Homo sapiens: one gene and its partners. The protein of the gene in region 4 purifies or fractionates together with the protein of the main gene of each other region. This does not show direct contact. Each region holds a gene or a part of one and is shown on either strand. Other genes may lie near its edges.

Region 1 (5,974 bases), on a different chromosome or scaffold from region 4:
CTGGGGGCACCCAGGGGAGGGGCTGGACAGGTGGGGAGAGGGGCTGGCCCCTGAAAGGAATGTGGGAGGTGGCAGGACGTGGGACGGGATAGAGGGAGTGGAGGCACCTCCATGGGTCTGGCCCAAGCACTTGCGATGCTCAGCGCTATTTGGGTTCCAGGCATGGGTGGCAAGTGTGCAGTGGCTGCTCTAGCAGGAGTCTCCAGTGGAGGGGCCTGGGGATGGGAGTGGCATCAGGTAGATGGCCCCTGAAGCTGGAGTGGGAGGAGGGATGCAAGCCTTGACCCTCTCCATAAGACAGGAAGTCAAGCAGAGGGGCCATCTTGAGGGAAGCTGGGGAGGGAAGCTGGGGGCAGGTGCGCTGGGGAGGACTGGGGCCGTGTGGCTGGTGGCCAGGCCCTGCGTCCTGAGTCCAACCAGGCCAGGGCAGAGCCCCAGCCCCTGTGTGGTGGGGGCAGGTTTGGGCAGGCTTGGTGGGGGTGGGCTGTCTCAAGGGGACCAAGGAGCTTCTGGGGAGAGGTGGGCATGAGGACCGGCAGGGTGGGCCACTGTTGACGGGGATTGAGGAAGTGATGGGCCATGCATGGAATAAGACAGGGCTGAGTGATGGGATGGCCTCCCTGTCCCCCTTGCACAGATTTCCCCGGAGGCTCCAGGCAGCTGGGCTGCTCTCATTCCCTATACCTGCGCTAGGCAGGATAGGGCAGGGTTGCCACTGGCCTCGCCTGTGCCCACAACAGACAGCACGGCATACACAGCCTGTCAACCCCAGCTCACCCCTAGACAGGGTGCCCAACCCAGGGCTAGCCTGGGGCTTTAGGCAGCCAGGACCATACAGCCCTGGAATGACGCCCACCTGTAGCTTGGGGTCCTCCCAAGCCCTGTGTGGGTCTCCAGGGTGAGGTGGGGGTTGTTTCCTGGGAGGCTGTGGGTCCCGAGCAGTCCCAACTGATGCCTTGCCCATCCCTTCTTGTCCTGCCAGGCACCGGCAGTGGCTCTGTGTCCCACGCCATCATCCGCACCATTGCACCCACGGGTCACCTGCACACGGTGGAGTTCCACCAGCAGCGGGCAGAGAAGGCCCGGGAGGAGTTCCAGGAGCACCGTGTGGGCCGCTGGGTGACTGTGCGCACCCAGGACGTGTGCCGCAGTGGCTTTGGCGTGAGCCACGTGGCCGACGCCGTCTTCCTGGACATCCCATCACCCTGGGAGGCCGTGGGCCACGCCTGGGACGCCCTCAAGGTCGAAGGTGCATCCGGGGTTCCGGGAGAGGTACAGCCTGGGTGGGGGTGGGGCAAGGGTGCAGGACTGAGCTCCTGGGATCTCAGAGGGGTCCAGAGACCAAGCCACACCATGGCAGTGGCCAGGCCAGGGCCCCACTTTGGCCTGAGGTGAGGAGTGGGTCAGGCTGGCCAGGGGAGGCAGAGCTGGGGAGGATGGTCCCTGGCTGGGCCCTGCTCCTGGTCTCTGGCCTCTCCCAACCCCCTGATGGAGGAAGGTGGCAGCGCCACCCAAGTGCAGGGCAGGCCCGGCCGGAGGAGTCTGGAGTCCCCTCCCTGCTGTTTCCCAAAACCTCTCCTCCCCCAGGCTCTGGAGCCCAGGGAGCTGGCCCCTTTTAGGGAAGATGCTGGGTGCGGAGGCGGGGCAGCCCTGGGGAAGGTCGGGCCTCAAGCCAGGGAGGTGGCTGGGAGGCCCAGGGTTTTTCCCTTTTCTGGAGAAGGAGCAGCTCAGGCAGCAGGGGCCCCTTCCTTCTTCCCAGCTGAGAGTTGTATTCTGAGAGGGTTGAAGGGTGGAGGTGCTGGGCGCCCCACCCCACCTCAAAGATGAGCCGAGGCCTGGTGCGAACAGCAAGGCTGTGGCCGGGGGTCCCCTGCTGGCTCCAGCCCAGCCCTGACTCCTGGGTCCTGGTCTCTGCTGAGGTGGGTAGCTGTGGGGATCTCCACACCCTGCCTCCTAGGCTTCCTGCTCTGGGGACACTTCTGGGCCTGGACCATAGTCCCAGGGAGGCTGAACCCGGCAGAGCCTCCCCTGGGGCCCCCCTGCTGCCTTTGTGACTCCTTCCTCCAGCGTGGCTCGGGGAACCCGCGCCTGCCTCTGGGACCTGTCCCTTTCCCTGCGAGCTCCCCCTTCTGGGTCCAAAGGCTCCTGGCTCATTCATGGGCCCGGCATCTCCTGCCGGCCACGGGAGCCCGCTGGGGAGGATGCGGCATGCTCAGCCTCTGTGCCCTGTCTAGGCTGTTGTCACACAGCAGGTGCCTCCTCTAACCCCGAACCTCCTGGCGGCCCCGTGTTAGGGTACAGCTGAGGAGACCAAACCTCAGGGACGTTTGAGGACACTTGCCTGGGCCACATACCTCTACCCGGCCCTGGCTTCCCCAGGTCCTCCCTGCCAGGACAGGGACCCGGGCTGGGTTCTCATTCACTGCAGGCCAGGCCAAGTGAAGCCCGTGGCTGCCCTGGTGGGAGGCGGCAGGGAGGGGCTGTCATGCTCGGGCTCTGCTTCGAGTAGGCGCCTCCTGTTCCCGGGAGCAGCGACAGCCTCTAATTTCCTGTGACAGCAGCGGCCCCCGCACCGCCCCACGCTGCCGTGCTGTCAGAGCTGCTCCGGGCCCAGAGCTCCAGCAGCCCTGTGGAAGGCAGGAGAGCAGTGCCCGCTGTGGGCCAAGTGAGACAATGGCAGCGCGGGCTTGACCCGGTGCCTGGCACATGGGAGGGCCTGGCATGGCTAAGCTGGGTGACATGAACAGCGGCGCCAGGCCCCATGGGGGGCTGTCAGTTGAGGGCCAGGCCCCTCTGCCCTGCAGTCCCAGCTCTTGGAGAGCTTGCAGTCTGTGTTGGGGCTGTCTTAGGCTGGCCTCAGACCCTAGGGTGGGAGTCCAGGGATGCTAGGGCCAGACGGGCCAGGCTCTGCCACCCCTGCCCTCTGACCCTCGGGTCCTGTTTCCCACAGGCGGGCGCTTCTGCTCCTTCTCACCGTGCATCGAGCAGGTGCAACGCACATGCCAGGCGCTGGCAGCGCGCGGCTTCTCAGAGCTGAGCACCCTGGAGGTGCTGCCACAGGTCTACAACGTGCGCACTGTCAGCCTGCCACCGCCCGACCTGGGCACAGGCACAGATGGCCCTGCCGGCTCCGACACCAGCCCCTTCCGCAGCGGCACGCCCATGAAGGAGGCCGTGGGCCACACCGGCTACCTGACCTTCGCCACCAAGACCCCAGGCTAGGGGGCCGCCTCCCAGGGCACCAGGGAGCTGGGAGCACTGAAGGGCTGGGCAGGGAGGCCAGAGGCACCTTATATGGTCAGCGATGCCTGCCAGACACAGACGGTGGGGTGGGGCTTGGGGGCCTCCTGGGTGGCCAGAGTGGGACAGCAGGAAGGGCGGCTGTGATGGAGGAGCAGTGCTGGGGCTGGGCCTCAGCCATTCCTGTCCAGCCCTGTGGCCCATCCCAGCTGCTGTTTGTTGCCAATATGAAGTATCCACTGCCACAGGCTCCCCTGGGTGTTGAAGCCAAAGGGTGCAGGTGGGGGAGTCTGACCCCCTCCCAGGTGGGCCTAAGCAGGAAGGGGGTGGAGGAGGGAGGGGGGCATTGACCCTGAGACCACGCTGCGTCTGACCCCTGGGCCCCCACGGCCCTGGCTGCCCCACGGGGCCTGAGACCATCTCGTGCTTCTCCAGTCCCCGGGCCGAGGCTCCAGCCTTGGCCAGAAGCTGGGGTGAGCTGACCCAGAATCCCTGCCCTGCTCTCCCCAGCGCTAGGAGACCAGGCCAGCCCAGGAACCAGGGAGGTGACCCTGCTCTCTGGCCTCCTGGCTGATGTCACAGCACTGAGCTCAGCCCAGGCCTTCGTCCACTCATGTCCAAGAGGCGGGGCATCCCCCACCCAGCCAGAGCCCCTGACATGGGCTGCACTCGCTGAGGCCAGGCAGCGCTGCGGAGAGGAGCGGCAGAGTGGGTTGTCTGCCGCAGGCAACCAGGCAAGTGTGTCGGGGCTGGGGTGTGAATGCCAGCCTGTGAGTCCCGGAACTATGTGGGTACCCCTACCCCTCACAGAAGCCAAGGGCATGGAGGAGGTCCCTCCACAGTGACAACGGTGTGGGGTAGGGGAGGTGCATTCAGGACACCACCCAGGGACAGTGCCTATGTGATCACCTCTTAAAGGCTAAGCTTAGGGGCATTTCCCAAAGTGGGGACAGAGGGCAGGACGCCCAGGCTGGGGGCTCTCCTCGCCCGCCCTGGTGTCTGACAGCCTCAAGGAAGGAGCAGTGCCTGTGTCAGCCATGGGGCCCTTGGAGCTGCCGCTGGTGCCTAGGGGGCCTGGGTTTCTGCCCAGGCAGCCAGTGGCTGTTGGGAGCCTCTGTTTCCCCTGTGCTGGGGGCCTTGAGTGCTATGCTAGCAGGGGCCTGGCCCCAAGTGTGAGTGATGAGCAATAAACGTACCGTCCCCCTCTGTTCTGAGTGATCCCTAGCAGCCAAGGCCACCCCCAGCTGCTGTCTAGGCCAGCCCTACCTGCGCTCTGCCCCTGGTCCCTGCTCCTCCCTGTCCTGGTTTGGCATGATAGGCGCTCCAGTCTCCAGGACAAAGGGGCAAATGTGTGGCCACCCCCATCTGGCTGCAGAAAAGGCCACTCCTTCCTGGGGTTGGGGTGGTCCAGGAGTGCTGGGCCTTCTTCCACAGTCCTGGGCTGGAATTCAGTGTGGCTGCCTGGGTTACTTGTATGCGCCCCTGAAGGAAGGGTCCACTCCAGGCCGCCTGGTCCCTGCGAAGTGTCACACTGTGGGTCACCGGGGGCTGTGGCTAATGTGGTCCGGGAGGCCTGTGTCCCTGAGAGTTGCTCAGCCCTGCTCCGAGGGCTTGTCCTCTCCTTCCAGGACCCAGCTTCCCTTCTAACCTTGTTACTCACCTGGGGCACAGAGGAGGGGCCCCCAGTCAGGTTCAACATGGAAGTGGGTGACCCTAATGCCAGGAGCTTTGGGGTCAGGCTGTCCCTGGGGTGTCATGAACTGGGTGACGCACACCCCTGAGATCTCAGTTCCCCCAAGCCTGCCCTGCCCCTCCTGGCCACAGCAAAGGCCTGCATGGTGTCTGATGGGTGGACACCGGGAGGTGTTTCTTTGAGGCGCAGCTCCATGGTTTATAGGACACATAGGCCTCAGGCACCGTAGGGTCCAGGTTGTGCCCATTTTCCAGCCGGGGCTGGTTGCCCTGGTGGCAGCCCTGGGTGAGTCACCAGGGTCCGCACATGGAGAGCGGGAGGTCCCAGCCCACCCTTAGTTGTCACATGGGACAGAGTTGCTGTGTCAATCCCCTCGGCCCTGCTGCTCTGCCCTGCACACAGGCCCCCATGATGACCTTGAGCCTCCAGGCATCCACCCCCACCGTATGGCCCTCTAGACCCAGCTGGGCCTCACCCCACTCCCTCAGCTTGGATCCTCACGTGGCCTGGAGCCAGCATTAAACTCCTGTATGTCCTTCAAGACCCCTTCAAATGTCCTTTTCTCAGCATGCTTCCCCAGACATCTAATGCCCAGGCGGGAGAGTCCTGCACACCATGTCCCGAAGGAGTCCCCATAGCAGAGGAGCAGAAGGCAAGCAGCGCCCCAGTTCTGTGATGGGGAGCCTGACTTTCAGAGGTAGAGCTGGGCCCATGGCCGTGAGTGACCGATGAGCAGGCCCGGATGGTCAGCGCGAGTCAGCAGCACGGGCTCATCATGGGGCACGGATTCACCAGAAACTCCCTGCCTGGCCCAGTGTGTACTCGCCTGTGGCCCTCAGATTTTCCCTGGCAATTCCTCCCCGCTCACCCTGCTGTCCTGCACTGAGACAGTGGCACATGACTCCCAGCTGCCCAAGCCCTGGAAGGTCCCAGACCCTGGCTCTGACTCAGCTGCTTGGAGGGTCCTAGTCCTGGGAACTGCCCTAGAGCCGAGATTAGAGTACCCCTCCCTCAGGAAGCCCCGGGGTGTCAGCTGCTCCT
Region 2 (7,596 bases), on a different chromosome or scaffold from region 4:
ATCTTCAATGAGGAAACCCTTGTGACCCTGGTTTAAGCAAAGATTTCTTAGATATGACAACAAGAGTACTCTGGAAAAGATCTAGCTGATAAACTGGACTGCATGAAAATTAACAATTCTACTCCTCGGAAAACACTGTTAAGAGGGCTGAAAAGACAAGGCACAGACTTAAAGTATTTACAAACCGTATCTCTGATTAAGGACTTGTATCCAGAATATATTAGAAAAAGGTTACAGGCTGGGCATGGTGCCTCATGCCTATAATCCTAATGCTTTGGGAGGCTGAGGCGGGCAGATCCCTTGAGCCCAGGAGTTCAAGACCAGCCTGGGCAACATGGGGAAACCCTGTCTCTACAAAAAATACAAAAATCAGCTATGTGTGGTGGCACACGCCTGTAGTCTCAGCTACTTGGGAGGCTGAAGTGGGAGGATCGCTTGAGCCCAGGAGGTCAGGCTGCAGTGAGCTGAGACTGTACCACTGCACTTCAGCCTGGGTAACTGAGACCCTGTCTCAAAAAAAAAAAAAAAAAAAAGATTAAAACTTAGCAATAAGGAAAGAAACAACTCAGTTAAAAAAAAAAAAAGGGAAAAGGATTTGAACAGACATTTCCCCAGAGAGGGATGACAAATAAGCACATGAAGATGCTCAACGTCCCTGTCATCAGGGAAATGCAAATTGAAATGCTATGCGACACCCCTACACGCCCGCCCATCAGACAGGCCAAAGTTAAAGACTGATCTTAGAGAAACTGAAGGACTCATTCCCTGCTTGCCAGCATATAAAACAGTGTAACTACCTTGGAAAACAATGTGGCGGTTTCTTAAAAACTCAAACATATGCCTCCCCTATGATCCAGCCACTCTACTCCTAGGTATTAACCCAAGGGAAACGAAAGCCCGGATCTACACAAAGACCTGTCGGTACATGAATGTTCACAGCAGCTTTATCTGCAATAGCCAAAACCTGCAAACAACCCACATATCCATCAACGGGTGAAGGGACAGACTGCAGCGCACCTGGACACTGAAACCGCCTGGCAACAAAAAGGATGAATGACGGACAACACACGACGACACACGGGGATCACACAACAATCGTGCCGAGTGACAGATCAACAAGAATGCACATCCTGTGTGATTCCATCTACGTGGAATTCTAGAAAACCCAAAGCAACCTACAGGGACAGTAGACGGCTGCCTGGGCTCAGGGAGGGGCAGGAAGGTGTGATCACGAAGGAGCACAGGGACTGGGGGTGACGGGAACGCTCATTTCCTTGATTTCACGAAGGAGGAGCAGGGACTGGGGGTGACGGGAACGCTCATTTCCTTGATTTCACGAAGGAGGAGCAGGGACTGGGGGTGACGGGAACGCTCGTTTCCTTGATTTCACGAAGGAGGAGCAGGGACTGGGGGTGACGGGAACGCTCGTTTCCTTGATTTCACGAAGGAGGAGCAGGGACTGGGGGTGACGGGAACGCTCGTTTCCTTGATTTCACGAAGGAGGAGCAGGGACTGGGGGTGACGGGAACGCTCGTTTCCTTGATTTCACGAAGGAGGAGCAGGGACTGGGGGTGACGGGAACGCTCGTTTCCTTGATTTCACGAAGGAGGAGCAGGGATGGGGGGTGACGGGAACGCTCGTTTCCTTGATTTCACGAAAGAGGAGCAGGGACTGGGGGTGACGGGAACGCTCGTTTTCTTGATTGTGTGTTGCTTTCACAGACGTATAGCCATACTCCCGAACTTGTCCAACTGGACGCTTTAAACGATGTGCAGGTTACCGTGTTTATAATACCTTTATAATGCTGGGGGTTTTTTTGTTTGTTTTTTTTTTTTAAATGAGGTGACTAGGAGGAGGGGCCCCAGCTGCCCTGCATTCACTGCACTCACCCAAAGCGCTGGTGTTTGTTGAGGGTGTACAGCAGGTAGTCAGCCATGGTCTCCTCCCCGACCAGGTGGTCCAGCACCGTTCCTGTGGAAGCAGCAGCCGAGGTGAGCACTGGAAACAGCCACATCTATGTTCCTGCCAAGTTCAAACACATCCCTTCCAGTCCTAGCCCAAAGACACCGTGCCGTGAGGAAGAGGCCAGCCACTGACAAAGACACTAACCAAGAGGACGGCACTCGGCTGTGGTCCCGGCCCCCACTCCTGCCTGGCACCTGCGACCAACCTCTCTGCCCTGGTCCGTCAAATGGGGAAAGGGAAGGCCACTCATGGGGCAGGGTGGAATGGTGACCAGTGCCTGTCAGCTGTGCACTATTACAGCTCTCACACTAAGCTTCGAGGAAGGTCTGGCAGCAACCAGGTCAAAGGCAGTAACAACTCCCGTCTAGGGGCCCTGTGCCAAAGCCAGCCCTAAAGGTGGGGTGGCAGGGGCCCCGGTCCCAGCCCCAGCCCCAGCCCCAGCCCCGGCTCACCACACAGGGCCAGCTTCAGGCCTGTCTCCACACTTTCAATCCGAGGAGCCAGCACGCCAGGAGTGTCCAACAGGAACATCAGGGGCCGCTCAGAGACCTGTGTGGGCACAGAGGGCATGATCAGGCCGCGGTGGCAGCCTCCCACCCAGGTGGGCCACTCAGGAAGCCTGGGCAGCCCCTGGCACCCAATGCTCCGAGGAAGGCCTCAGGGACCCAACCCCATGGCAGCGTCACTCTCACCAAGCTCCAGGGTTCCCCAGAGGATCTAATTCCCACTTAATTTGGAGAATAAATAAAAGCGTCAGGTCCCAACAGCTTGTCTTCTGCTCCCAAGGAGAACACAAGGAAGGGAGTGGAGGGTGGGGCGGGGGGCGCCACACTCAGGTCTGTCCTGACCACTGCATGGCCCTGGACAGTGGCCTCCTCATCTGGAAATGGGGAAAACAGCGTGCCTTCCCCAAAGGTTTGGCGCAAAGACTATGACGACTGTGGAATAAGGGCAGGGGCAGTGCCTGCCCCGGGGGTGCTCAGCGGGGACACTGAGTGGAGGGGAGGGAAGCGTGGTCAGCAGCCGGAAGCCACACAGAGGTCGGCAGGTGCCAGACGCCTGCAGAGCTCTTGACAGAGTGCTGGGCCTGGCCCCTGAGGACTCCACCTGAATTTTGGACATCACAGCTCTGGTGATCCCAGGCTCGCCACCCACCCTGGTGGCTTTCCCTGTAGGAAAAGGAGAAAAGGAGGCTCAAATGTATACTAAACACAGAAGCTGCAGAACAAGTAGGGAGACGTATGTAACAAACACATCTGACCAGCCAAGCAGGGAGACTATGTAACAAACACAACTTACCAGCCAAGCAGGGAGACTATGTAACAAACATATCTGGCCAAAATGGAAACTAAAAGCCAGATGAGCTTCCCAAGGCTATAATTTGTTTCACTTTCAGTCACAAACCAGCTCACAGCAAGGGCACTTTCCAAGCCACACAGAGACTGAGATTCTTCAACAAATGCACCAGAACCTAACTCCCCAGGACTGGAAAGGCACTGTCAGACTGCGGAGGTCAGACCTGAGCTGCTCCTTCCACGCAGTCCCCCACCTCCCTCCTGGACCCACCCCTGCACCCCAAGGTCAGCCTGCCTCCCACAGCACTGTCCACAGGCGACTGGCTGCTCTAGGACCCAGCTCAGGGTGTGTCCCAAGGAGGCCACTCCACTGTGGACAAACAACCCAAGAATAAAAAACACAAGTGTCCATCCAGATGAATGGACAAGACAGGATGTGGTCTGTACACACAACGGGGTGATCAGCCTTAAAAAGGAATAAAATTCTGACACTCAGGACAACACAGACGAACCTTGAGGACATCACGATCGGTGACATCAGCCAGTCACAAAAGGCCAAGTACTGTGAGTCCACTTGGAGGAGGCAGTTACAGTCATCGAATTCACAGACAGAAAGTGGAACGAGGGGTGTAGGAGGCTGGGGGAGTGACTCTTTGTATTTACAGAGTTTCATTTTCAGGTAACCAAAATATTTGAAAATAGTGGTGCTGGCTGCATAACCCTATAAATGCACTTAATACCACTGATAAAAAATAATACGCTTAAAAATAAACTTAAAAGAATAAATGACTGTAACAATGCTCCAATTAGCACCAAAAACACCCTCTCTGTAAAATAACAGTTCACCGTAGTTTAAAGCCTTCAGATTTGCACATCATGAATGGGTTTGTTAATAAATGCCTTATTAATATGAAAAATGAAGCCAACAAGGACTTGAATTAAACTTGAAAATACTTAAGGAAAAGAGCCCACGGGGCAGTGAAGGGTGCTCGGGGCTCCTGCTTTGAATCAGAGTCTGAGAACAGGCACAGAGGGAGGAAAGGAGCGCCTGCGACTCCGGAGTCCAGGAACCCTCCAGCAAAGGCAAGGCGGACGCCATGGAGGAATGGCCTTGCAGCCTCCCTGCCTGATAATCCAGCCCCGTCTACTTCACACGCTTTGTATTCTCTGGATCAAAGGGATTTTTTTTCTTTTCTTTTCTTTTTTTTTTTGAGACGGAGTCTCGCTCTGTCGCCCAGGCTGGAACGCAGTGGCACAATCTCAACTCACTGCAAGCTCCGCCTCCCGGGTTCACGCCATTCTCCTGCCTCAGCCTCCTAAGTGGCTGGGACTACAGGTGCCCGCCACCACACCCACCTAATTTTTCGTATTTTTAGTAGAGACGGGGTTTCACCGTTTCAGCAAGAATGGTCTCAATCTCCTGACCTCATGATCCGCCCGCCTCGGCCTCTCAAAGTGCTGGGATTACAGGCGTGAGCCATGCACCCGGCCAAAGGGATTTAAATAAATGAACAAATATCAAAGTTTAGAAAAGCCATCTTCATGTTAAAGATTTTAAAAGAGAGAAAAATTAAGTGTGAAATTCACAGAACGACCTGGTCCCACTGTTCAGCCCTCCTGTGAACTGGACTGAACGAGACAAGATGTGCTCTGGGGCTGCGGGGTCAGCAGAAGACTGGCAGTGCTCCTCGGGCACGTCCCCTCCAAGAAAGATGGTGGCATCAGCACATCAGCCACACGCGCCAGTACCTTTCCTGAGGTGATCAGCCGCACGCGCCAGTACCTTTCCTGAGGTGCTGCCTCCGGAGGGAGTTGATGAGGGAGGACTTGCCCACGTTGGGGACCCCAATGACCATGATACAGTACTCCAGGTTCTGCGCAGGCAGAGAGAGGGGTCACAGGGCCCACCGTGGCCGCTAGAGCCTGAGACTCTGCAACCCCACCCAGGCAAGGGGACCCCAGGCCAGGTCAGCTCAGGGAAGAAGGGAGGTTAACGCCGAGGCTCTGCCCACCCAGCGGGGACGGCCTCGGCCCTTTCCACTGAAGAGAATGAGAGGACAAAGGAGGGGCCTCCCTGCCTGGGGCGCTGCGCCTTCTCCTTGGAGAGGCCAGGCAGGAGGGGCTGGCCCATCCCACGCCCGCCTCCCACTCCCAGCTCTGGGCCCCACCAACCAACCTCTTTTCGGTGGTAGCGGTGGCTTCTCCCAATCAGTTCAGTGACCATCGGGATGATCTGCAACAAACACCCACTCATGGAGCCACCCCAGGTCGGACGTCTGTGCACTGACCCGCTCCTTCTGCCACCTCAGAACAGGATTAGGGATTCCAGTGTCTCCACTTTCACATATCCGTTAGGAAAACAGAAACCTCCTATCTGGAATTCTACCCAACATTTCATAGGCAAACTGGGCGTCACCCTTCATCTGGAGGTAGCACACCAAGTATCCGGTGTTGGGAAACTGGAGTTCTGTCCAGGTCACAGATGTCAGACTGAGCTCTGGGGCCGGGGACCACCTATGCCCGTCCCCTCCCATCAAAAACAAGCAGGGCAGACCCGGGGCTTCAGTGACAGCTGTAACTACCTTTTAATGAAGAAACACATCAAGCCAGAAAATTCTACCACATACAACTGGAAACATGAGCTACCTGAGTCTCCAAAAGACTCTGACCACCTACAACCCTGGAATGCGTCTACAGCCTGACCTTGTGCCCTCAGTACAGGGAGACCCACTTGCCCCAGGAGATCGCATCCGTGTGTGGCAGCTGGAAACCAACACCTAGGATCTTTTCCAAAGCTCTGCTTCTTACTAAAGCATAAAACAGTTTATAATGCTCCTCGAACCTACTGAAGCAGAAGCGTCAGAGAGAGCACAGACGAAAAGCCTACCTGCTTGACATTTTCATCCTTTACACAGTTGGTAAAAATGACATTTTTTAGGCCTTCTCCTTCTAAGTGTTGCATAATTTTCTGAAAGACACAAAACATTTCTATGTTACTTTTTTTACTGGAGTCTTGGCTCTGTCACCCAGGCTGGAGTGCAGTAGCACAATCTCGGCTCCCTGCAACCTCCGCCTCCCTGGTTCAAGCGATTCTCATGCCTCAGCCTCCCAAGTAGCAGGGATTACAGGCATGCGCCACCACGCCCAGATAATTTTTGAATTCACTGGCCTTAACATGCAGTGAAACTAGTGCAAAGCAGTATCATATTTCTAAACATCAGTGCTGTTAATCATCTGACCTAAAGTATGACTGATGTTTAAATCAACAAGTCCTTCACTGATTCAGCTGGTTTTATTTAGCTGTCCACGAAGATGACACGGATGGAGAGATCAAACATAAGACACACACCTGAAGCCACACACTCTGGGTAGTAAATGTACTTGGGTGTCCCTGCTCAGGGAGGCAGAAGGCAGGGCCACCCAGGGGCAAGTCTACCTCTCTCCCGATTCTTCAGAAGCACTGGCCTTTCTCTGACCAGGTCAGACACTGCTGTGCCCTATACTAGACGGCCACCCACCAGTCTACAAAAAGTCACATTTTCAAAGGCAGGAGTTGCCACTGATATGACGTAAAAGTACCAACTAGTGAAAACACTTGCGATGATTTAAAAAAAAAAAAAAAACAGGCTGGACGCAGTGACTCACGCCTGTAATACCAGCACTTTGGGAGGCCGAGGCGGGCGGATCATGAGGTCAGGAGATTGAGACCATCCTGGCTAACACAGTGAAACCCCGTCTCTACTAAAGATACAAAAAATTAGCCGGGCATGGTGGCGGGCGCCTGTAGTCCCGGCTGCTCAGGAGGCTGAGGCAGGAGAATGGCGTGAACCCGGGAGGCAGAGCTTGCAGTGAGTCAAGATTGCGCCACTGCACTCCAGCCTGGGCGACAGAGCAAGACTCTGCCTCAAAAAAAAAAAAAGAAAATAAGACACAAGACAAAGAGATAAAAGAAAAGACAGCTGTGCCTGGGGGACCACTACCACCAAGATGCAGAGACCGGTAGTGGCCCCAAATGTCTGGCTGCACTAATATTTATTGGATACAAAGCAAAAGGGGCAGGGTAAGGAGTGTGAGCCATCTCCAATGACAGGTAAGGTCACGTGGGTCATGTGTCCACTGGACAAGGGGCCCTTCCCTGCCTGGCAGCCAAGGCAGAGAGAGAGGGAGAAAGAGAGACAGCTTACGCCATTATTTCTGCTTATCAGAGACTTTCGGTACTTTCACTAATTTTGCTACTGCTATCTAAAAGACAGAGCCAGGTGTACAAGATGGAACATCAAGGCGGACTAGGAGCGTGACCACTGAAGCACAGCATCACAGGGAGACAGTTAAGCCT
Region 3 (7,705 bases), on a different chromosome or scaffold from region 4:
CCTCTGAAGTCGATGGACATGCAGGGCCTGGGTAGTGGGGCTAGTGGTGGGTCAATCTTGGCCGACTGCACCACAAGCCGCAGCATCTCGGAGACCTACTTTCTTCCCTCCTTCCCTACGCAGCGCCACAGCTTCCTTTTTGGAGCTCCTCAGTCCAAGACTTTTCCCAGCGATCCTGGGGTGAGTGGAGCCCCACTTCCTGTCTGTTGCTAAGCAACAGACAGGCTGTCACAAAGGTGGGCGGTTCTTGGTTCTGGAGAGGAATTAATGGGAAAGAGAAGGGGGAGGAGGAACAGGGTATAGGTGACTGGGCCTGTAGAAACAAAACCACCTGGCTGCTTTCACCCCCTTTTCTTATTGCCCAGGCTGGAGTGCAATGGTGCGATCTCAGCTCACCGCAACCTCCACCTCCCTGGTTCAAGCGATTCTCCTGCCTCAGCCTCCCGAGTAGCTGAGATTACAGGCATGCGCCACCACGCCCGGCTAATTTTGTATTTTTAGTAGAGATGGGGTTTCTCCATGTTGGTCAGGCTGGTCTCGAACTCCCGACCTCAGGTGATCTGCCCACCTCGGCCTCCCAAAGTGTTGGGATTACAGGCGTGAGCCACCAAGTCTGGCCTTAAAAAATTTTTTTTTGCCCACCCCACACCTGCCCTCCTTGCCGTCCTTTTGATTTCAAGGTCAGACATAAGGTTGATGTTTTCTCCTTGTACAAGCAAGTTGTCTGGAGCCAATCATTGCCAAAGTCACACAATGTAGATGAGAAAATAAGAAAACAGTGAAGTGACCTGAGAAAAGGGATAGGAAAATCAAGGACTATTTCTGTGAGGTCTCAGGGAAAGTTCTTCCTAACGTGGAAACCTTTTTACTAAGAAAAACCTAAGTTTAGATACGAGACCCTCTTTGACAAAAGGAAATTAGCTTTTGAATTAATGAGCTCATATGGAAGGTCAAAGAAGACAATGCGGTTTTGAAGTGGCTGTCTTTATGGCTGTCTGAGCCTCTGTGCATTAAGATGGAGCTGGGGCACCTATTCTTATTGTCCACAGCAAGGCTTTTTAGGCTTTAGGGTTGAACATCGTATAAATTACATCTTATCCAATAGTTAGAATGAAAACTAATGAATATTTAAATGCTGGGATTGGTGGCTCATGCCTGTAATCCCAGCACTTTGGGAGGCCAAGGTGGACGGATCACTTGAGGCCAGAAGTTCGGGAACAGCCTGGCCAACATAGCAAAACCCCATCTCTACTAAAAATACAAAAATTAGCTGGGCGTGGTGGCACGTGCCAGCAATCCCAGCTACTTGGGAGGCTGAGGCAGGGGAATCGCTTGAACCTGGGAGGTGGAGGTCACAGTGAGCCAAGATTGCACCACTGCACTCCAACCTTGGCAACACAGCGAGACTCTGTCTCAAAAAAAAAAAAAAAAAGGCCGGGCGTGGTGGCTTACGCCTGTAGCCTGTAATCCCAGATCTTTGGGAGGTTAAGGCGGCCGGATCACGAGATCAGGAGATCAAGATCATCTTGGCCAACATGGTGAAACCCCGTCCCTACTAAAATACAAAAAATTAGCCGGGCATGGTATTGCGCGCCTGTAGTCCCAGCTACTCCGGAGCTGAGGCAGGGGAATCGCTTGAACCTGGGAGGCGGAGGTTGCAGTGAGCCGAGATCACGCCACTGCACACAAGCCTGGCCACAGAGCAAGACTGTCTCAAAAAAAAAAAAAAAAAAAAAAAAAACAATGTTTAAGAACAATCTATTAGTTAATGAAACAACTACTTAGCAGTAAGCGTACCACGCAGTCTAAGAGATGAATGGATTCAAAGACTGAAACGCTGGGTCAGTGATCAGGGTGCTGATTGCTTTCTAGTGCAGCAGATTAAAAAAAAAAGTGCTTCTTGGAAGTTTTTCTTGAAATCTAAACACAACACAGTGCTTTTCGCTTTGTGAATGGCTTTTCAAAGTAAGCGTGACACAAAAGACCCTGTAAGTGAAAAGCTGACAGATTTGACTGTATTAAATAAAAAATTCCTATGTAGAAATTATGCCTTAAAGCTAGAAGACAAATATCAAAGCAGGGAAAACATTTTCAATATACTTAATGTCCAACAGTTTATTTAATAAATGTTTATAGAGCAAGCTCTTAATAAGAAAAGGATGACTATCCCAAAGGAAAACAAAGGCAAAGCTCCTATCAGATAATTGCCCAAAATGACAAAAAAAAATTTTTTTTAAAAAACCCTCAGTCTTGTTAATAATCAAAGAAATACAATGAAATACAATTTATGACTTTGCCAAATTGGTTTCAAAAGCCAAAAAAGATGTAAAAAAAAAAAATCAAACTCACTGGGCACGGTGGCTCACGCCTGTAATCCCAGCACTTTGGGAGGCCAAGGCGGGCGGATCACGAGGTCAGGAGATCGAGACCATCCGGGCTAACACAGTGAAACCCCGTCTCTACTAAAAATACAAAAAATTATCCGAGCATGGTGGCACACGCCTGTGGTCTCAGCTACTCGGGAGGCTGAGGCAGGAGAATCGCTTGAACCAGGGAGGTGGAGGTTGCAGTGAGCCGAGATCACGCTACTGCACTCCAGCCTGGGCGACAGAGAGAGACTCTGTCTCAAAAAAACAAAAACAAAACAAAACAAAAAACTCATTAATAAGCAAATAAATGGGATAAGATACCATTTATCACCTCTTAAATTGGCAAAGAATGAAACAAAATGATAAACGTGGTGTGCTGAGGAAAGGAAGGGGCAGAGAAAAGATACAAATCTGTTTTTAGTGGGAATGGGAATATAAGTAGAGAAATAGCAGAACCCTGGCCCCAAACAAGCGCCCAGGAGACAAAGTTAAGGGTAGGGAGAGGTGGGGCAGGGGCTGCTCTATTTGTGATAATTTCTATGGCCTTAAGCTCCATATTTCTAAACAGCACTTTTAAATAGCATTCCTTGATTTTTTCAAATCTATGAGGCATTTTCCCAGTTTTATTGTTTTCCCCGGGGCTCTCCCTCCTGGTCTTCTCTTCTCCCCCAGCTGAGACTAGTGGTCCCCAGTCCTGCAGCATAGCTATTGTCCTGGGATACTCTTTGCCATCACCTTCAGAATTCCTCGTCTGCTTCTTGTGTTAGACCCTGCTTCCCCGATCCTATGCCTTCCGTCTTCTCAGTTTACCCTCTCATCTTTGTGGAACACAGCTTTGAGTGGCTTTCTGAATGTTTCGAGTGTTTGCATGTCTGTACCTATCTTTTTTTTTTTTTTGAGACAGAGTCTTGCTGTGTCGCCCAGGCTGGAGTGCAATGGCGCGATTTTGGCTCACCGCAACCTCTGCCTCCTGAGTTTGAGAGATTCTCCCACCTCAGCCTCCCGAGTAGCCGGGATTACAGGCATGCGCCACCACACCTGGCTAATTTTTGTATTTTTAGTAGAGACAGGATTTCGCTATGTTGGCCAGGCTGGTTTTGTACTCCTGAACTCGTGATCCACCCTCCTCAGCCTCCCAAAGTGCTGGGATTACAGGCGTGAGCCACCGCACCCGGCCATTTCTTTTTTTAAATAGAAACGAAGTCTCACTGTTTTGTGCAGGCTAGTCTTGAACTCTTGGGCTCAAGCAATCTTCCCACCTTGGCCTCCCAAAGTACTGGGATTATAGGCATGAGCCACAGATCCCGGGTGAGATTTATCATCTTGAACCATGTCTCTTGCTGTCTTGTCTCATGTCTCTTGATGTCATGTTGTCAGTCAGTCAACCAAATAACCAATTATTGATCAGTCAACATTTGAACAATTACCTATGTTCTGGGTGTATGTTCTCTGGAGGATACAAAGGTTAATGTCCCTGATTTTGAGGATCTACTCTCTCTACACAAAACACATAGGAAAGTTAACCACACAAAACAATCTAGGGTCAGTAACAAAATTCTTTTTTTTTTTTTTTGAGACGTAGTCTCACTCCGTCGTCCAGGCTGGAGTGCAGTGGTGCAACCATGGCTCATTGCAGCCTGGACCTCCCAGACTCAAGTGATCCTCCCACCTCAGCCTCCCGGGTAGCTGGGACTACAGGCATACACCACTATCACACACACCTAATTTCTAAAATTTTTTGTAGATACGGGGGTCTCATCATATTGGCCAGGCTCATCTCAAACTCCTGAGCTCAAGAGGTCCTCCCGCCTAGGCCTCCCAAAGCGCTGGGATTACAGGCGTGAGCCACATTAGGTAAATTCTTAATGAGTAAATTCAGGTGGCTGCCCTGGTGGAGGTGGACCGTTGGGTGCTCGACCGCCCAGAGGGCACAAAGGACCAACACGGTGGGGGTGGCGAGAACTGGGGCCGTAGAAGCCAGCCTAGTCCTCCGCCCTCGCTTTCCCTACTGAATATGCGCGAGGGGGAAACTCCAGCCTAGTTGTTGACTTTCTGCTTCGGACATGCTCGCGTGTTCTTGGCTCTCCTCTTCCGGACAGAGGCGCCGGAGCTTCATCCGTTCCGGGCTTTGCCGCTCACCGCCTCTCCCTTCCCAGGCCGTAACCCGCTTCCGCGTTTTACTCGGTGCCCGCAGCGCCGGGGCGTGGAGGCGTTAACGCGCACGCGCTTAGGGATCCGGCCGTGGCCGAGCGCGCGGCCGTAAGACCGCGGGTGAGAGCAGCGTTGGCTTCGAGGGGAGTGGCGGGCCGTGGGGATCGCGGCCGTGGTTGGGACGGCCGGGGGTCTCGGCGAGGGCTTCAGGGCTCCCGGGGCATGCGGGGGCCCGGGCTAGGGCCGGCTGCCGGTGCTGGTCGGGCGGGGCGGGTCGGGCCGGGGGCGGGCTGGCAGGGGCCGCGTCTGGGCCTCCGTGACGCGGACGCCGAGCCCTGCCCCAGGGAGCGGGAGGCGGGAGGCGGGGGCCAGGCGGCTCCTCCTCGTCGCGAACTCTGGATGACCTTGGCCAAATCGCTTCAGTTCCCCGAGCTGGCGACTTCGTCTGTAAAATGCGAGTCATAGCCCTGTCTCCTAGATGGGCCGTGTGGAGGCTCAGTGGCGGGAACGCCTGCGGGGCAGCCGGGGTCCTGGGCGGTTTGCTAGGGACGCCTCACTGGGGGTGAGGGTGAAAGGGCTTCCACGGGGATCATTTTGTCACAGGCTTTGTTGGGGGGGCAGTTTTCATTTTTATGTAAACAACTCTGGAATATTACGAAGTACTTAACAGAACTTTTGTTTCGCACAATACGAGAGGCTTGAAGAAGTGGAGCCCTAGCTGGGATTCGCTTTTTTGAGGCCGGCGTTGCCCTGCCCTTTAGGGGTGCCCACGCTCTAGCTGCGGCCCCGGCTCCCTTCGCATTGTCGTTAGAGGATGGTGTGAAGCAACAGAGATCCTTAGCTTTCAACGAATTCATATTTGTGATTTCCTGTTTGTCAAAACCCTTCCTGCCCACCTAGGAAGTGGTGCTGGCCAAGCAAGTTTACTGTCTGTCCACGCGAGGTCTTTCTGAACCTTGGGGTCGGTGAGCTCTCCCGTTAGGTAATTTCAGTTCGCTAGAGGTTGAGTATGGGACAACTCGTGGCACCATAGTTTTTTTTTTCTTTTTTTTTGGTGTTGGTGTGGGATTCCACGAACCGTCCCCACCAGAGGTCTGCCGTGAAATGGATACTCAATAGGAATGATAGTAGGTTACAAAAGTAAGCATGTTAGATGGTGTAGATTGGGAGAAATTTAGGATATTGGAATTGACCTAAACTGAAACTTTTCACTGCAGGTGACTAGCATGCAGATACCCATGCTCTGACTTTCTGCCCCTCCACTGACATGGCCCACCGGGGTGGGGAGAGGGACTTCCAGACTTCAGCTCGACGCATGGGCACCTCGCTGCTCTTCCAGCTTTCAGTGCATGAACGGGAGCTGGACCTGGTTTTTCTGGATCATAGCTATGCCAAGCCTTGGAGTGCCCACCCAGATGCCAGTAGTGCCCGCCCCACCCGCATGCTCTTTGTCACTCCCCGGCGGCAGCACGAAAGTACCATGTGAGTTGGGGCTTCTAAGGGCTGCTGGTAACCTCACTGGGCAGTGATCAGATGGGAATTTAGAGAGGATTTTCTCAGGATTGACTGGGGGAGATTGTATGAGGCATTTGGATGTTAAATTCAGGCATCTCTTAAGCAGCATAAGGATAGCAGGCTTGAATGTGGCTATCTCTGTGAGACAGCTAACAAGAGTTAGGAAAGCAAGACGTGCAAATGAAAAGCAGACAACCTATTCCACTTAGATAGTAGGACGTGTGGAAAGGGGAAAATCGTAGAGGGTTATTTAACTGGTGAAGAAAAAGACTGAAAAGTTGATTTTAAAAGATTACCCACAGGATACGACTCTTTTATCACATTAGTCCAGTGCTCTGGGTTGCTTGACAGTGGCAACAATAGCCTTTTTATAGTAATGCATTTTGCTTTTCTTGGTTTCACACACGAAGGTTAGGAGCCAATTCCCAAGACGTTGCTTTTTCTCTTCCCTTGTTACAGAGCTGCTATCCATAGGTTAATCTAAACCCTTCTTATGTCTAATGATATTTTCACCCAGCCTATGTTATAGGGTAAGGAAGTTTCATAAATTGACTACCTGATGAGTGATACAGTTACATTTGGTCTAAATAAACCTGTTTGCCAGTTCTTTTGCACTTTAAGGCATTCTAATTATGTTTCATGATGTGTTGATATATTCCGTTATGGTGATCAAATCATGTCCTTAATAATTTTGTAAACTTTTGGAGAAGAGTTTTGTCTGTTTGTTTTTAATCTGACCTAATGTTTAATCTTTCCTTAAGCACTGGTTTTAATTTTGTTGGGGGTTAGAGCCCTTGTAGAGGCTTCTTTAGAGTCACCCCTCCTGGAATTGAGACTTAATGACCTAATGAGTTAGAGATACCACAATGTGTGTGTGTGGTTTTTTTTTTTTTTGAGATGGAGTCTTGCTCTGTCGCCCAGGCTGGAGTGCAGTGGTGTGATCTTGGCTCACTGCAACCTCCACCTCCTGGGTTTGAGCGATTCTCCTGCCTCAGCCTCCTGAGTAGCTGGGACTACCGGCGTGTGCCACTGTGCCTGGCTAATTTTTGTATTTTTAGTAGAGACAGGGTTTCCACCCACCATGTTAGCCAGGCTGGTCTCGAACTCCTGACCTCAGGCAATCCACCCGCCTCGGCCTCCCAAAATGCTGGGATTACAGGCATGAGCCACCGCTCCTGACCCACTGTGTGTTTTAAACATGTGCAGAATAGTGTCTTTTATTTCATTTCCCAATGACTTTATAATTTTGTTGGCTTTTTTGGTGTACAGGAGATAAAATCTGTAACTTTAGGCAATAATTTAGCATAATCTTGATGCCTCTGGCCTAGGGCATAACTGAAAAGCTCCTTTAAATAGTAGTTGAAGTCTTTTCCTTTTTTGCTGCATATTAGCTTCTTGCTGACATTAAAACTCCTGTGTCCACATCTCATGACATTTTCTTAAAGTGAGATTCTGTGGACTTGGTTCTTTTGGTACTTAGAAAATTGTTTCCTTTTATAATCTCTGTCTCCAAATATAGACCCTGAAAGTGAGAATTTGGCATGCTGTAAGAACTCTTTTAGGCCAGTGTGGCCAGAATATAATAGCAGTAGGGGTATAAGTGGGAGGTAGGGAGAAGTTGGCAAGGGTTACCTCGTGAAGGAATTTGATTCTAAGAGTGGTAAGAAGTC
Region 4 (7,872 bases):
TCATGTCAAAATCAGATGAAGGAAATTAAAACAACAACCCATGTGAATGGATAAACTAAAATACCAACCTAAACCTAAAATGCATGTTAAAAGTAGAATTTGCAATAAATATGGAAAAACTAATCATGGCAGAGACCGAAAGCAATGATGCCAGGATTTTGGTAAGAAGCACTTTTGAAAAGACATATTAAATGAGGAAAACTAAACCTAATGGAATTTCTTCTCTCATTACTTAAAATAAACCAGGTCACTGAGATGAGCGTACACTATGGTATTTTGTTCATTTTCATTTCATTTTTATACCATAAATTCCCATGGAAATACCTCAGACACGTGCCCACAATAATTGGAATGCCTAACATTTCAGCGTAAGTACTTTTGCATGAGTTCTACTAAATAAAAAGAATGCAGTGAGAGCCCTCCAAGTTTTTTGGTTATGTCAACAGCTATTTTACGAGTATGAATTATCTCTGTACCTATAAACTACATGTGTAAAATACATTACATGAGTCTGTGTGAAGCCTTAATGCGAAGACCAAGGTCTGAGCTGCACACAGAAACATCAAAATAAAACTAAACTTCCTAGAATATAGCAATCATAAATTTTCTTACCAAAGCTATTACTGTTAAATATACCTTGATGAATTAAGTTCAAGTGTAACTACAATTGAAATGTATGATTCAACTGAGCTATGACCTACTTCCCTCTCAAAAGCAAAAGGGAATTATGACAGTTGTGAGACTTATATTTTTCCATTCCATGGTCTAAAAGTTGTTTTATACTTAAACTATAAGCAAAATGCACCTGACATTTATTTGCTTTAAAATATAGTTATTCATGCTATTGCTCATAGGACAGATAGAATTTTAATAGCAATGTATCAAATAATAATTATATCTTTCCATGTATTTTTAAGCTGTACAGACCAAGAAGCATTCAGGAAGAAAATAATCTTAATATATAATATGATACCTAAGTCTAAAGTTCAGTTATAACTACATGATATATTTACATACAACAGAACCTATAATCAACATGACAAATACAAAATTAACCAATATATGTGGTTGAAAATACCCACCCCTAGCAGAAAGCTTTTTGGTGTTGATAATTTTGGCAGCATATTCTTGTCCAGTAGGAATTTTCATACATCTTCTCACCACTGAGAATGCCCCCCTGGAAACCAATAATTAGCAGGTCATTAATATAACAGATATAATATTTCATTAAAAATTTATAAAATCTGAGCATTTTTATTGATTTTAGTGGATTGCCAGTGAAGTACAGTAATATCCAGTAAATGAACAATTCTTCCTGGAAACCCAGACTTTCTTTAATGTTGAAGAATAAAAGTAAATTTTATTTAACTGGGAGCACACATTATTAATCAACAAAATGAAAGGAACTGCCAATTATGACCGCTCTTGTTTGCACAAGAAATTTGAAAACATTTTACAGTTCACACTCACAGCACCAAATGCTCTGAGAAAAACCCTGCACAGAACAGAGCAGACGAGGAGCAGCAAAAAAATCTGCTGCCTACTTATTTTGGTAGGAAACAAAAAATTAATGTGGTTCCAAGTAAGTAAACATGACGATTATTTTCATTAAAATATAAATCTTGAGCACATTAGTGTGGTTTAACAAATCCTGGTATGGTGATTTCTCTATGCCTTGTTTTGGACTGGGGGAGGGGAGAGATTTGAATTAAGCTGCTCTTCCGACATATTCTCCATGTTTTAACACCAGACAATATATACATATGTAATTTTTATTACTTTTAAAAATATTTACCTTTCCTTTAATTACAGTATAAACCAACAACATACATATAAACGCACTCCTTTCATAAAAGTAACAGTCGAAACTAGTGAAAGAGGAATTGGGTTTGGGTTCCATGCTACAAAAATCAGCATTCACGGCTTGGCCCCTAGGTCCCTTTGCATAAGTCCTCAGTAGGTCTCCTGCCTCCTTCCCTAACATCTCCAAGTAGTTCTGCCAGTCGGGTGAAGGAGGTGGTTTTACACAATGCTAGGCTACGCTTAAGAGCGCTCTCAGTCTCCAGAGGGCTTTTCCGTTGCCTGTATAAATAAATCCTCCCAGAGAACGCAAAGATGCACACGTAAATCCTAGGAAGAATGATGGTGAGCGGTAATCTGGTGCAAAGAACAACACTGGATATAGGGCAAGGGGTTGGGTTCTGTTGGGTGGCCCTTTTCCTGGACAGAACAACTACTGGATGCGAAATAGACTCTATGCCAAGTTGAACTTTCGGCATCAATAAATATGGCACCGTCTGAGGCTGTGAGTTCTCATCAGTACCTGGGTCATACGGCCGACACGCCGGCTAACCAGGAGGCATCTCTATTTACAGAAAACATGATCTATGTTGCATTTTACATGGGTTCTAATTTCCTCTCCAAACACACATTACACACAGGCGCGCGCGCACACTTCTCAGGATGATAGCTACAACTGCAGAGATCGTAAATTCACTAAGTCTCTCAGTGCAGGAGGGTGGGGGACCGGGAGAAGGTGGGCTAGGGACCATCAAAATGAGCCACAGTTGGAGTAAGGGTCCTACCCCTTCTGTGCTCCCTCCCTTTATTAAGACAGCACCTTCCCCAGAGCTGACAAACCAGGGGCCCTCCTCCCATTCCTCTCCCAAACTCCCTCGCCCCAAGACGGAGGCCGGTGGGTCGGGGGCAACGCGACCCGCCCTCAGCTGGAAAGGGGATATGCGGATGCCGGGCAAAGGTGCTTACTTTCCAAGCTCCTCGAAAAGCTGATACTCGTCCGTGAACCTGGTGCAGGTTGTGGTCGAAGCCATCCTCGGTCCGGGCTGTGCCCTGGCTGGGAGCGCGACGGACCAGAAGCGAGCAGACGCGCGGCTAACCCCGGGACTGGCCCCGCGGCGCTGTCACCCAGGGCCGCTCTTACTTTCCTGGTCCGAAAGTAGCTCGCCCGCGAGGGAGTGTGCGCAGGGGCGGGGCGGGAGGGGAGATGACCAGAAAGGGTGGCGTGGGGTCTCCTCCCCACAGTCCGCCGATCCTCCTCCTCCTGCGGGCCTCGCTTCCTTCTTCTCCACTGGACGCTCCACCCGCCCCTTTTCCAGTCCCTGTCCCCAAATGCAGGGGGTAAAGTACTCAAGAAGAGGGGGCCGGGAAATGGAAAAACAGCCAGGCACGGGACGAGTGGCAAGCAGTTGCGAAACGATCCGCACTGGAGCAGGAGGAGTAGAAGCAGAGGGGAGGGAGTCCGAGGGGGCGGAGGTGGAGTGCAGCGGGGCCGAGGCCGCGGAGCCCAGAGCGGACAGCCTGAGCCCAGCGGCCGCTGTCAGCAGGCTCAGGCGCGGGGCGCGCCGGGGCTCCGACGAGCGTGCGCGCCCGAGGCCGGCTTCCCTCCGGCGGGCGGCAGCGGCTCCGGCGAAGCGAGGCACCTTGGCGGCCTCGCGCTGCTCACGAGCCCGCGCGGCTTCAAGACGGCGCGGCGAGAGAAAGAGCGCTCGGCTCAGGCGAAGCCTCTTCTGCCGTCCCCAGGCCTCCGTCTCCTCCTCCGGCGCCTCCTCCCGCCGCTCCCTCCGCCTGCCAGCACCCCCTCCCTGGCGAAGCCCCCTCCTCGCTGGTCCCACACCTCCCTCTAGCGACTCCAAGCCTGTCCCTTCGTGGATCTCTCGCACTCCCTCCTTTGGTTGCACACACGAGCACACCAGTCTAGGGAGAAACCAGGTGGGTGGAGGAGGATGTGCGGGGGAGAAGACTGGAGGTTTGGGTGAATGAGGCGAGAAGTCACAGTTACCCATTTAAACCCGCACAGAGAAGGCTGCCTCAATCTGGGGCTGACTGAGCGGGAAGATGCAGGGCAACTCGAGGATGGCCCGGGGCAGCCGCCCTGGGTCGCGGAAGCCCACGCCCCTGTTTTGGGCGCCGGGCAGCAGGGACTTCTCCAGGCCGGTTCCCGGGCCACGACACCCGGTGGGCCGAGCAAGGGAGAGCAACCACTTCATCTCCACGCCGCTCAGAGTTGACACAGCAGGGGCCGGATGTGGGCTGTTCACTGCTCTCAGAGAAGGGTCCCAACCCTTCCCACAGCCACCAGCGACTGTCGGGGCAAAACCCAGCCTCAGCAGGGTTCACTGCGTCGCCAGCTCCCCAGAACCGGGCGCAGGTTTTCTCCCTCCCCCGCAGCCCCTTCTGCAAGGGGCAATGACGGCCCCTGAGCCACATTACACTTGCCACCTCCAGGCCCACCTCCCCCGCTGTTTTCCAGGATGGTGGCTGAGACTCTGGCAATCCCCAAAGGCCTTTGCTTTGGCTGTGAACGTTAAAAGAATGAAAGCAAAAACTCCGCCGCACAACCACACCTTCCCTTCCCTTCTGAGTAACTCCCCTGCAACCTCAGTAAGTTCTGATAGTAAGGCGAATTCTCGCGATATTTCCCACTCTGGCGGTCAGGGGGAGGTAGTAGGAAGGCTGGGTGTCGGTCACGCGACCCGGCGGGGGCTGACGTCATTCACATCACGTGAACACGTCTAGACTGTTTCGCTTTGCAAAGGGAAAAAAGAAAAGGGGCCGTCGTGTGTGCTTTTGCTTTCAGCCAGATAGTGGCAATTGAGTGCACTCCGTAAATGGCTATCTGGAAAAACCATTTAGCAGTTCAAGAATGTGTCCTTCCCTTTAGCATATCTGCCATTGTTTTCAGTAGGAGGAAAAAAAAAGTATGCATTACGATTTAAAATAGATAAACTGCTGCCGATTGCTAGAACAACTTCTGGGCCCTCTTTCCAGTTCTCCTTAATGAAACTATGCAATTGCAAATTTAGCCGCAGACCAAAAACAGCGTTATGGACGGTCTTTTTCAAATTACTGCCAATTGTTCTACAGCACGGGACTATAAAAACCTTGCAATCCTATTGCTAATTTGCTCGTGGTATTACTTCATAGACAAAATTTCACAGCTGAAAGATAAAAGATAATTTGCAGACACAAGAGAATCTAAGATTTAAAGGCGCTGCTGCTTGCTCCCAAAGACTGCTATTAATTAATGTTACTTTGTGGTCATAGATAATCCTAATTCCTTTTTTCCTGATCTGGGGAACGCTTCTGCCAATGAGTGAGCTTTTTACTGAAGTACTAAAAATGTTCACAAATTTTAACGTTTATTACAACAAAATTGAAGTTCGTATGTGTTTTGATTCCCAGCCGTAAAAGGCAAGAAATAACTGTGTAAAATGTAGTGCTATAGAAAAAGATGATACCAAGAACTGCATAAAAGAAACATGGTCTCTAAATATTAATAATTGGGCTATAAATTGAAAAAAAAAACACAATTTGGTCTTGGCTAAAGATTTGTAATATCTGAACTATTTAGCAATGTGGCTCCAAGGTGATAATGAAATAATTTAATATTTTTCCCTGAATCTAAGAATGAAACAGAAAAAGTAAAATTAAAACAATAAAGGTAATATAAAAATTTACATCTGGGAAGAAAATTGTTTCTTAAATATTCAAGTAATGAAGTCTACATAATTACAGTATTTATCTCAGTTATTTAAACTACCAATAATTGTAAATGGTTATAATTGTGGAGTACAATAAAGGAAACATAACTGAGTTTTAATACTGATGTATTATTAGACAATAAATGTGTACATTTTTTACAGCAAACACTGCTTAATCTGTACGTACCCTTTCTTTGATTTATATTTTAGACTAAATATTTCTCTTATTTGAACAAATATTTACAGTTATTTCTGAAGTTTGAACCTCCTTAAAAAGTAGTCAGATTAGCCGGGCGCAGTGGCTCACGCCTGTAATCTCAGCACTTTGGGAGGCCGAGGCGGGTGGATCATCTGAGGTCAGGGGTTCGAAACCATCCTGGCCAACATGGCAAAACCCCGTCTCTAATAAAAATACAAGATTAGTCGGGCATGGTGGCATATGCTTGTAATCCCAGCCACTTTGGAGGGTGAGGCAGGAGAATCGCTTGAACCTGGGAGAAGGAGGGAGGTTGCAGTGACCCGAATTCGCGCCACTGCACTCCAGCCTGGGCAACAAGAGCAAAACTCTGTCTGAAAAAAAAAAAATAGTCAGATCAAAGACTTTGTTGTTGTTGTTCTACTTCAACATCATTTCAGGAATAGCTACAAAATAGAGATAAATTCTAAAAAGTGTAGAAATGTAGACCTATAAACATAATAACACTGGATGTTAGTGCCAAATGTATTTACATTTCATTATACATGCCTTACTAACTGCATGTCTGATGAACATGGTAGAGAAAGTTAAGAGGGAGAGTTAGTGAATAAAAAGTTAGTCATTAAAGTTGTTGAAGATAATAAGGCAGGCTTTATTCAAGGGGGTCCATGGTGATCAGAACCACTGCAACCAGGTCTTGCAGGAGGAGAGAGAGATTGGACTCTATTTCAACTCTTAAAAGGCCAAGTGGGGATTTACAAGCAAGGAGCAGGGTAGAGGGCTGTGGATATAAAATGACTAAGTATTCTCCCTCTTTCCTCTTTGGCAACTTGGAATTTAAAAAAATCCAAGACTTCAGTAGTTTCACCCAGAAAGTACAAGTTTCTAATGCTTACATTAACAAAGGCAGATATTAACAGATACTAACATTCATTGATTTCCTCTGCTACAAAGTTATAAGATAAGAAACAGCGAAGAGATAATGTTATCTCTATAGCTCCCCAAAGTGCAGAGTCCATCAGTAAATAGCAGATTCCTGTGAAAATTTTAGCAGGTGCTGTGTTGAAGCCACTCTTCACTGCAGATTTGGAGGCTAGGGGAAAAAAGTAACAGCAAGTTGCTGCCTTTCCAAACTATGATAACTAAACCATATAGAGCCAGACAGTCTACTGATGAGCAGATAATCTGTTTACCAGACCATCCATTAGTGCAAGATGAATTTGCAGTTAAAAAACAAACTATTCATAAAAGCAAAGCTAACAACAGAAGATATTTTCTTTGTTTCATCATGTGCTGAAAGAATCTTTTTCCTAAAAATAAAAATAAATGTGCAAATAAATAAGAAAACAAGTGATATCCATACAATGAAGAAATGTCTCTTTTGCATTACTTGCAAGTACATTGGTCAGCATGCTTGACCCTCCATGAACATACATGTTTCCCTGACACTCTGCTAAAAGAATTGCAGTAGGAAGGTACATTAAATAAGATGTATAATACACAATAATTGTATAAAAGGTTATAGAGTCATTAATAAAGAAAATAACAGATTTTGACTCTTCTGTGTACCTCTAATGATTTTCATTGACTTTCAACTTTGCAAACACTTATTACACTGGACTGTAATTAGACTGTCAGACCCTTCCTGGCAGGGACTGTCATTCAGTCCCCCCACTGTATCACTAGCACAGGGTTTTTGCCACAACAGGTGCTCAAAAATACCTTTTTTTTAAAAAAAAAAAAAAACAATATTATGGTATTAACAGTCTTGACTTTCCAAATATTAAAAATGCCCAATCTTTAATAGGGTATAATGAGGCCCCTTTGTTGCAATATTTAGTTGATTCTTTGTAATCCTGAAGTAACTTGACTTCTCTGTATAATTTCATACTCTTGACCTGAAATTCTCTCTGTTGGTTTTCATGTCTGATACCACACTTTCTATTCACAATACCTCACCCATTCCACAACATTTCTGCCTCTTTTCTTCAGTATCATTCCTGGTCTCTTTTTTCTCTGCCTCTGTGGTAAGTGATAGTGCTTTCAACCTAGGATTCCATCTTAGGTTGCCTTTTTTTCTCATTTTACACAGCTTTCCTAGGCTGCCTTCATAGCTATCACTGTGTTAATTATCATATGTCTTAAATTTGACTCTCCAGATGTAGACCCTAAGAC

What was found.
Region 1: the proteins of CAMK2D (region 4) and TRMT61A purify together in Homo sapiens (co-immunoprecipitation; 3 studies listed by BioGRID and IntAct, with this or other methods). This does not show direct contact.
Region 2: the proteins of CAMK2D (region 4) and MTG1 purify together in Homo sapiens (co-immunoprecipitation; 3 studies listed by BioGRID and IntAct, with this or other methods). This does not show direct contact.
Region 3: the proteins of CAMK2D (region 4) and KANSL3 purify together in Homo sapiens (affinity purification with mass spectrometry; 2 studies listed by BioGRID and IntAct, with this or other methods). This does not show direct contact.

What each region holds. Positions count from the first base shown.
Region 1 is NC_000014.9:103,531,600-103,537,573, forward strand, and holds the end of TRMT61A (tRNA (adenine(58)-N(1))-methyltransferase catalytic subunit TRMT61A), read left to right. Parts: intron 1-982; coding exon 983-1,249; intron 1,250-2,950; coding exon 2,951-3,222; 3' UTR 3,223-5,474; downstream 5,475-5,974. UniProt on the Homo sapiens protein: Catalytic subunit of tRNA (adenine-N(1)-)-methyltransferase, which catalyzes the formation of N(1)-methyladenine at position 58 (m1A58) in initiator methionyl-tRNA.
Region 2 is NC_000010.11:133,397,067-133,404,662, reverse strand, and holds part of MTG1 (mitochondrial ribosome-associated GTPase 1), read right to left. Parts: intron 6,229-7,596; coding exon 6,148-6,228; intron 5,494-6,147; coding exon 5,437-5,493; intron 5,135-5,436; coding exon 5,044-5,134; intron 3,135-5,043; coding exon 3,073-3,134; intron 2,515-3,072; coding exon 2,418-2,514; intron 1,972-2,417; coding exon 1,890-1,971; intron 1-1,889. UniProt on the Homo sapiens protein: Plays a role in the regulation of the mitochondrial ribosome assembly and of translational activity. Displays mitochondrial GTPase activity.
Region 3 is NC_000002.12:96,635,218-96,642,922, reverse strand, and holds the start of KANSL3 (KAT8 regulatory NSL complex subunit 3), read left to right. Parts: upstream 1-4,610; 5' UTR 4,611-4,640; exon of another isoform or gene 4,641-4,663; intron 4,664-4,931; exon of another isoform or gene 4,932-5,082; intron 5,083-5,574; exon of another isoform or gene 5,575-5,737; 5' UTR 5,738-5,787; coding exon 5,788-6,002; intron 6,003-7,705. Other genes in the region: FER1L5 (fer-1-like protein 5), read right to left, coding at 2-86. UniProt on the Homo sapiens protein: Non-catalytic component of the NSL histone acetyltransferase complex, a multiprotein complex that mediates histone H4 acetylation at 'Lys-5'- and 'Lys-8' (H4K5ac and H4K8ac) at transcription start sites and promotes transcription initiation.
Region 4 is NC_000004.12:113,758,238-113,766,109, forward strand, and holds the start of CAMK2D (calcium/calmodulin-dependent protein kinase type II subunit delta), read right to left. Parts: upstream 3,502-7,872; 5' UTR 2,832-3,501; coding exon 2,767-2,831; intron 1,178-2,766; coding exon 1,083-1,177; intron 1-1,082. UniProt on the Homo sapiens protein: Calcium/calmodulin-dependent protein kinase involved in the regulation of Ca(2+) homeostatis and excitation-contraction coupling (ECC) in heart by targeting ion channels, transporters and accessory proteins involved in Ca(2+) influx into the myocyte, Ca(2+) release from the sarcoplasmic reticulum (SR), SR Ca(2+) uptake and Na(+) and K(+) channel transport.